Linked DNA regions of Homo sapiens. The protein of the gene in region 1 purifies or fractionates together with the protein of each later gene. This does not show direct contact. Each region holds a gene or a part of one and is shown on either strand. Other genes may lie near its edges.

What was found. The genes of interacting proteins can lie anywhere in the genome.
Region 2: the proteins of ZNF800 (region 1) and MTA3 purify together in Homo sapiens (affinity purification with mass spectrometry; 2 studies listed by BioGRID and IntAct, with this or other methods). This does not show direct contact.

The regions. Positions count from the first base shown.
Region 1 is NC_000007.14:127,390,668-127,394,415, reverse strand, and holds the start of ZNF800 (zinc finger protein 800), read left to right. Parts: upstream 1-1,707; 5' UTR 1,708-2,356; exon of another isoform or gene 2,357-2,607; intron 2,608-2,800; 5' UTR 2,801-2,858; coding exon 2,859-2,919; intron 2,920-3,748. UniProt on the Homo sapiens protein: May be involved in transcriptional regulation.
Region 2 is NC_000002.12:42,571,584-42,575,331, reverse strand, and holds part of MTA3 (metastasis-associated protein MTA3), read right to left. Parts: intron 1-3,748. UniProt on the Homo sapiens protein: Acts as a component of the histone deacetylase NuRD complex which participates in the remodeling of chromatin.

The DNA.
Region 1 (3,748 bases):
TCTTACTGCGTTTCAAAATTTTTCTGCTTATTAAAGTTTTATATACTTAATTTACAAATTTTGCAAAGTATACAAAAGAATAAAATAAAAATCATTCATAATTGCACTGTTACAGCCCACTGTTAAAATATCACATTTCAAAATACTTCTTTTTTGTTGCTTAAGCATATTCCATACAACTAAATTTTATATAAAATGTGATTTTTATTGGCTGCATAACAAACACTATCACAGAAGTATCATAACTTATTTTACATTAATTTATAAACTGTGGCATTTCATATTTTAGTTTCACGTTGGGTGATGCCTCTTAACTATGGGACAGATATATATGATCATACCACTTATGTGACTAGTTAAAGATCACGTTTCTATCCCTTTCTTGTCATCCCCTAGAATCAAGCTGCTGCAATCCCCGGAGACCTAATGCAAACGCTTCACCTCCTGGACCCAAGCCATCCCGCCCCCCGCCCCCGCCTCTCCCGTAGCTGGGACCACAGGCACGCGCCATCCTGCCCGGCTAATTTTTTTTTATTTGGTTGAGAGGGCGTTTTGCCATGTTGCCAGGCTGGTCTCTAACTCCTGGGCTTAAGCGATCCTCCCGCTTTGACCTCCCGAAGTGCTGGGATTACAAACACCAGCCACTGCGCCTGGCCCAACATTTTTAAAGTAACAAATGTATCAATTTACAAACTTTCCTTTGGATTTTGAAAACTGAACTTTTTCTCTTCTAAACAAAGTCTATCTACTGAACTTCAGTTTTTTCAGGACCCCGCACAATGGCAGCTTAAGTTGGACCAACTGGAAAGGTTTTCAGTGGATCTTGGGGAGGATCGGAGACAAGGCGAATGGGCTTTATTCTCTTAAAATTTCCTGACGGGCGGTGGACACATATTTGCTTGATGTCACCAAGAGCAAGAATTACGTTCCAGGAGCTGGGAGGAAACAACGGAGGCGGCTCTCTCGCCCCCAAGAAGCGGCCCTTGGTTGGCAGAATTTGACAGATGACTGGGATCTTCGAGGATTTTCCAAGCAGGATCGGGGCGCAGAAGAGGAGGGAAAGTGCGTGAGCCCACGTGACCCAACTCCACTTTCAAGTTTGAGAAGCGGAGCTGCCAGGATAAATACCCATCTGCTACCAATAGATGCTTTCCCTCCCTTGGGCCTGATAAAAGAATCCCCAAGTTCCGGGAGGCATGCTTCGAAAATTGTTGGCAGGAAAAAAATGTTCAACTTTTGCCATTTAGCAATGCACTGACAGCCTTTTGGGGATCATCACTACTTATGGCTCATACATCTGCCCACCGCTTCCTAAGTCCTCTCCCAACCCTCCCCGAGTTTCAGTTCCACTGAACAGAGAACAGCGAGAGCAACAGTTTGGTGGCCGAGCAGCCCGTCTCCGTGGGCGCGCACGCCGCATCGCGGGCCTCACACCTCACTTTGGGCTTCGGCTCTCGGTCGGCCCGAGACTCCGGCCGCGGCCCTGGTGTCCCCCGCCCCGGTTCCCTCCCCTCGGACACGGCCCTCGCGCCGGCGGCCCCGGTCCCCTCCCCACCGGCCGCGGCGGGCACAGCGCGTCGCCTACCCACAGGCGGGGGCGCCGGCCGGGCGCATGCGCGCGGCGCTCCCGGGCGTGCCGGCCACACTCCCCCCACCCACTCGGTGAGCTTGTCACTTCCTGCCCTCGCCCCATCTCCGTCCGGGGTCAGTCAGTCGCTCCCTGTCGCTGCCGGAGAGTCTCTGCTTCCCCCTTCCTACGCGCTCCGCGGCGGTAGCTCGGGCTCTCCGGAGGAGGGGGCGACAGAGTAAAAGAGAGGCTGACTTAATAAAGTTTCCTGAAACAACAACTACCACCGAAAAGGCCCAAGGTTGGGGGAGACCCCCATTTTTCTCCGCCCCTCTCCTAAAGCCTGAGGGACCGTTGCAGGTGGAGCGGCGCTGGTGGGACCCGGGTTGCGGCGGCAGCCGTTGCCCCGGCGAGGGAAGCCTCAGGTCCTGCCCGCTCCGGTTCCGGCTCCTTCGGTGGTGGCGGCGGCAGCTGCTGCCGGGCGGTTCCTCCTGTCAACTGCCTCCGCCCGCGCGCCTCCCGCCTAGCCACACAGCGCGGAGGACGCCGTGAGCCGCCGCCGCAGTCGTCTCGGCCCGCGGAGGGACGTGGTGAGCTGTGGCGCTTCCGCGTCAGCGCCGGCGGGGACTCTTTGGGAGCGCGTCGGGCCCGAGTCCGGGTTCCCCCGCGTGGTCAGCGGAGGCTGCGCCAGGTGGGGCCCGCAGCCGCCTCCCACGCCAGGCTGTCCCCGCGGCCGCCCGGCCTGCCTTCCTTCCTTCCGCCCGCCCGCCGGCCCGCCCTAAGAGTTGAGTAAGTTGGGCGCACTTGGTTGTGGGGACGGGGTCTCCGCCAGGGAGACCCCAACGCACGTGCGTAGCGGGAGGGCGCGGCGTGGGCCAGCAGCCGGCGGGAGCGGCACCTCCGTAGTCCCGGAGCCCGGCGGTGCCCGCCGCGCTCTGCGCTCCGTTTCCGCGCGCCCGCCCGGGACGGCGAGGCCGCAGCCGCCCGCGCTGCCGGCCAGGCCTTCGCCCTGCGCTGCGCACCCGAGGCTGCGTTTCCGGGTAGGGCGATGAACCTGTGTGGGGAGTTTGGGCTGCAGGAGGGTTTGTGCGTCTTTCTGTTTTCTTTTCGAGAGGGAGGTGCGGGTCCGTGGAGGGAAAGCGGAGAGCTGATGATGGGAACGTATCTGGAAAATGCAGCCAGTGCCCCCCAGGAAGTTCAGGGCGAGTGACGGGTTTGTGCTTCTTTCAACAGCCACGCCGCAATGAAGAGCTTCTTACAGTGAAAGCAAAGTAGGTCGAGTCCACTGAAAATGCCTTTAAGGGACAAATACTGTCAGACTGACCACCATCATCACGGATGCTGTGAACCAGGTAGACCCCTCTTCGTCCGCAGTTGCTTTGCCCTCCATCAGAGCCACTCTGCCTTCTCTTTTTTTCTAGCTTTTTTTCCTCCTGCCCCAGTAGTCATTCTTAAGCAGGCTATGATATTCCCTAGCATAAGCCAGTTATGAAGCTAAAAGCTTGTACAAACAAGAGGTCTCCCCTGCTTGATCCCTTAAAAAAAAGTACTGCAAGTGTCACCTTAAATCATTTCCACAAGATCAGTCGCTCAGTCTTTTTTCTTTCTTTTTCAAGGCATCCTGCAGTTAATATACTCCTATGGTCTGTAAATGTTTAAAATTGAAGAGAAAGGAAAACATAGAATACTAGATTTGTTGTCGTGAAATTGTTTCACTGAAACTTTAAAAATTAAAAGTTTCTTAGGCATTTTAATCAGCAAGTAGTTCTGAAAGTCTAAAAGTGAGTTTAGTTTGGGTTTTAAAAGTTTGTTGAACTCATTGGGAGAATCAGGTTTTGCTAAGCGCAACCTTTAAAAAAATATCTTGGGCAGAACATATTATATTGCGAAATAAAAGAGAAATCTCTTTTTTTATTTAGGTAGAATACATAATTATTTCCAGGGTATTTTATGGAATGAAACTTGCTTTAGTTGAATTTATCATATGAAAAAGTTTTTCGGAGTCTCATGAAGAATACTAGCAAACTTTAATTTGATAAACTTGATATACTGTTGACAGTTCTACTTAGAACTTTGATATGCTTTGTGACAATCATTAAAAGGTATAACTTAAAAGGGAATCATTGAATGCATACCATCACTAAATCAAATAAAGGCTAGGCTATTCTAGTTTAAAGGCGG
Region 2 (3,748 bases), on another chromosome or scaffold:
AGAAAAGATCACTGCAGCTGACACTCTAGGAAGACAGGTAATGAAAATAAACACAGTAAGTATATTTGGAGGTGATAAATGATATGGAAAAAAGAGCAAGGGGTGAGGGGTAGGACGGACACAAATAAACGGTCCTCCTAAGGTGGTTGCAGGGAGAAACAGCCAAAAGCCCATTGTGCTTTGTGCCAAGTAAGCAAGGCAGAGCTCCCACCTGCTTTCAGCGAAAGTGGAGGTCAGAGAGGGGCAGTGACAGCCAAAGAATATAGGGTCTCATAGGTCAAGATTTCTATTTCGATGTAATTAACTTTCTAATTAAACTGATATGGTAAATAGTTTAGAGTTGCCTCAATTCTTATACCTTACATCAATAACATAAAAGATCAGAATCACATGCCAACAGTTCCCATCCACGGACTGATCTACACTTGAGGCCATTCTCTTCACTTGGTGGTCTCAAAGACTAAATAATTTTTTTTTAATGCAAAGGCAGTCAGCCTGTAATCCCAGTGCTTTGAGAGACCAAGATGGGGGACTGCTTGAGGCCAGGAGTTCTAGATCAGCCTGGGCAACACAGTAAGACCACGTCTACAAAAAATTTAAACATTAGGCGGGGTGCAGTGGTTCACGCCTGTAATCCCAGCACTTTGGGAGGCCAAGGCGGGTGGATCACTTGATGACCAGCCTGGCCAACATGGTGAAACCCTGTCTTCACTAAAAATACAAAAAAATTAGCTGGGTGTGGTGGCAGGTGCCTGTAATCCCAGCTAATTGGGAGGCTGAGGGAGGAGAATCACTTGAACCTGGGAGGAGGAGGTTGCAGTGAGCCAGGATCTATGCTACTGCACTCCAGCCTGGGTGACAACTAACATAGGCAAATGCAGTAGCACAGTTATTTTGAGAAAAGGAGGCCGGGCATGGTGGCTCACGCCTGTAATCCCAGCACTTTGGGAGGCCGAGGTGGTAGATCACCTGAGGTCGGGAGTTCGAGACCAGCCTGACCAACATGGAGAAACCCCATCTCTGCTAAAAATTAGCCGGGCATGGTGGTGCATGCCTATAATCCCAGCTGCTCAGGAGGCTGAGGCAGGAGAATCGCTTGAACCCAGGAGGCAGAGGTTGTGGTGAGAGGAGGTTGCACCATTGTACTCCAGCCTGGGCAAGAACAGCAAAACTCCGCCTCAGAAAAAAAAAAAAAAAGCCGGGCGCGGTGGCTCACACCTGTAATCCTAGCACTTTGGGAGGCCGAGGCAGGCGGATCACAAGGTCAGGAGATCGAGACCATCCTGGCTAACACGGTGAAACCCCATCTCTACTAATAAATAATAAATAAATAAATAAATAAATAAATAGCCAGGCGTAGTGGCAGGCTCCTGTAGTCCCAGCTACTCGGGAGGCTGAGGCAGGAGAATGGTGTGAACCCAGGAGGCGGAGCTTGCAGTGAGCTGAGATTGCGCCACTGCACTCTAGCCTGGTCGACGGAGCGAGACTCCATCTCAAAAAAGAAAGAAAGAAAGAAAGAAAATGCTGGGGCAGTGGCTCACGCCTGTAATCTCAGCACTTTGGGAGGCCAAGGCGGGTGGATCACCTGAGGTCAGGAGTTTGAGACCAGCCTGGCCAACATGGTGAAACCCTGTCTCTACTAAAAATACAAAAATTAGCCAGGCATGGTGTTGGGCGCCTGTAATCCCAGCTATTCGGGAGGCTGAGGCAGAAGAATTGCTTGAACCCAGGAGACAGAGGTTGCAGTGACCGGAGATCATGCCATTGTACTCCAGCCTGGGCAACAGAGCAAGAATCCATAGCAACAACAACAAAAAATTAGCCAGGTATGGTGGTACATGCCTGTAGTCTCAGCTACTTGGAAAGCTGAGGCAGGAGGACTGCTTTGAGTCCAGGAGTTCAAGGTTACAGTGAGCTATCATCATACCAATGAACTCCAGCCTGGGTGACAGAGTGAGACCCTGTCTCCCTGTCTCTGGAATAAAATAAAAATAATGCAAATTCCCTGGGATATTCCCAAAACAAACCAAGGTCTCAAGGCTCTTCAAACTAAGAATGTCCTAGGTCAGGCTTGCCTTCTCAAGACAAAACTGAACAAGTTACCAGATGGCATTTTGAGGGAAAGGTATTAGCTAGACAGACTCAAAGATTTTAACACTATGAAGTCTCATAAACCACACAACCCTCAGAGAAGTCTGGAGGAAAACAAAGCATCATTAGAAAATCGGAGGAAAACAAAACATCATTAGAAAATCCATGGTCCATGCAGCTTGACTGCTTTCTGGTACCTCCATTATAAATCCTGGCCAGGCGCAGTGGCCCACACCTGTAATCCCAGCACTTTGGGAGGCTGGGGCGGGTGGATCACCTGAGGTCAGGAGTTCAAGGCCAGCCCAACCAACATGGTGAAACTCTGTCTCTAATAAACACACAAAAAACAGCCAGGCATGGTGGCGCATGCCTGTAATCCCAGCTACTTGGGAGGATGAGACAGTAGAATCGCTTGAACCTGGGAGGAAGAGGTTGCAGTGAGCCAAGATTGCGCCATTGCACTCCAGTCTGGGCAACAAGAGTGAAAACTTCATCTCAAAAAACAAAAAACAAAACAAAACAAAAGTTTCTTCTCCTGCAATCATAAGGCTTCTTTTGTCCTAATAAACGACCATCTCGGACAAATCTTAATGTGAAAATTTTAATTGGGCCAAAGGTACAAAGCTACTTTATATTTATTACACCAAAACCATAATTTTTTTTTTTAATTTCGAGACAGTCTGTGTTACCCAGGCTGGAGTGCAGTGATGCAATCACAGCTCACGGCAGCCTTGACCTCCTGGGCCCAAGCAATCTTCCTCAGCCTCCCAAGTAACTGGGACTACAGGCATGTGCCATCATGCCCGGCTATTTTTTTTTGGTAGAGGCAGGGTTTCCCTATGTTACCCAGGCTAGTCTGGAACTCCTGGACTCAAAGGATCCTGAGGCCTCAGCTTCCCAAAATGTTAGGATTACAGGTGTGAGCTACCACAGACAATTTAGCCTAGTCCAGAATTTTTTTTTTGAGACAGTCTCACTCTGTCACCCAGGCTGGAGGGCAGTGGCGCGATCTCGGCTCACTGCAAGCTCCACCCCCCAGGTTCACCCCATTCTCCTGCCCCAGCCTCCCAAGTAGCTGAGACTACAGGTGCACACCACCATGCCCGGCTAATTTTTTTTGTATTTTTAGTAGAGACGGGGTTTCACTATGTTAGCCAGGATGGTCTCGATCTCCTGACCCCGTGATCCGCCTGCCTTGGCCTCCCAAAGTGCTAGGATTACAGGCGTGAGCCACCGTGCCCAGCCAGCCTAGTCCAGAATTTTACAAATTCCCTTCAATTTTTTTTTTTTTTTGAGACGGAGTTTCACTCTTGTTGCCCAGGCTGGAGTGCAATGGCGTGATCTTGGCTCACTGCCACCTATGCCTCCCAGGTTCAAGCAATTCTCCTGCCTCAGCCTCCCAAGTGGCTGGGATTACAGGCATGCACCAACACACTCAGCTAATTTTGTATTTTTAGTAGAGATGGGGTTTCTCCATGTTGGTCAGGCTGGTCTCAAACTCCCAACCTCAGGTGATCCGCCCGCCTCGACCTCCCAAAGTGCTGGGATTACAGGCGTGAGCCACCGCACCCGCCCAGCCAATTCCTTTCAATATTATGTTCCCTAGCTTCCTCCTTCTAAACCTGGAAGAGGAAAATATTAATTCACTAAAAAGGGA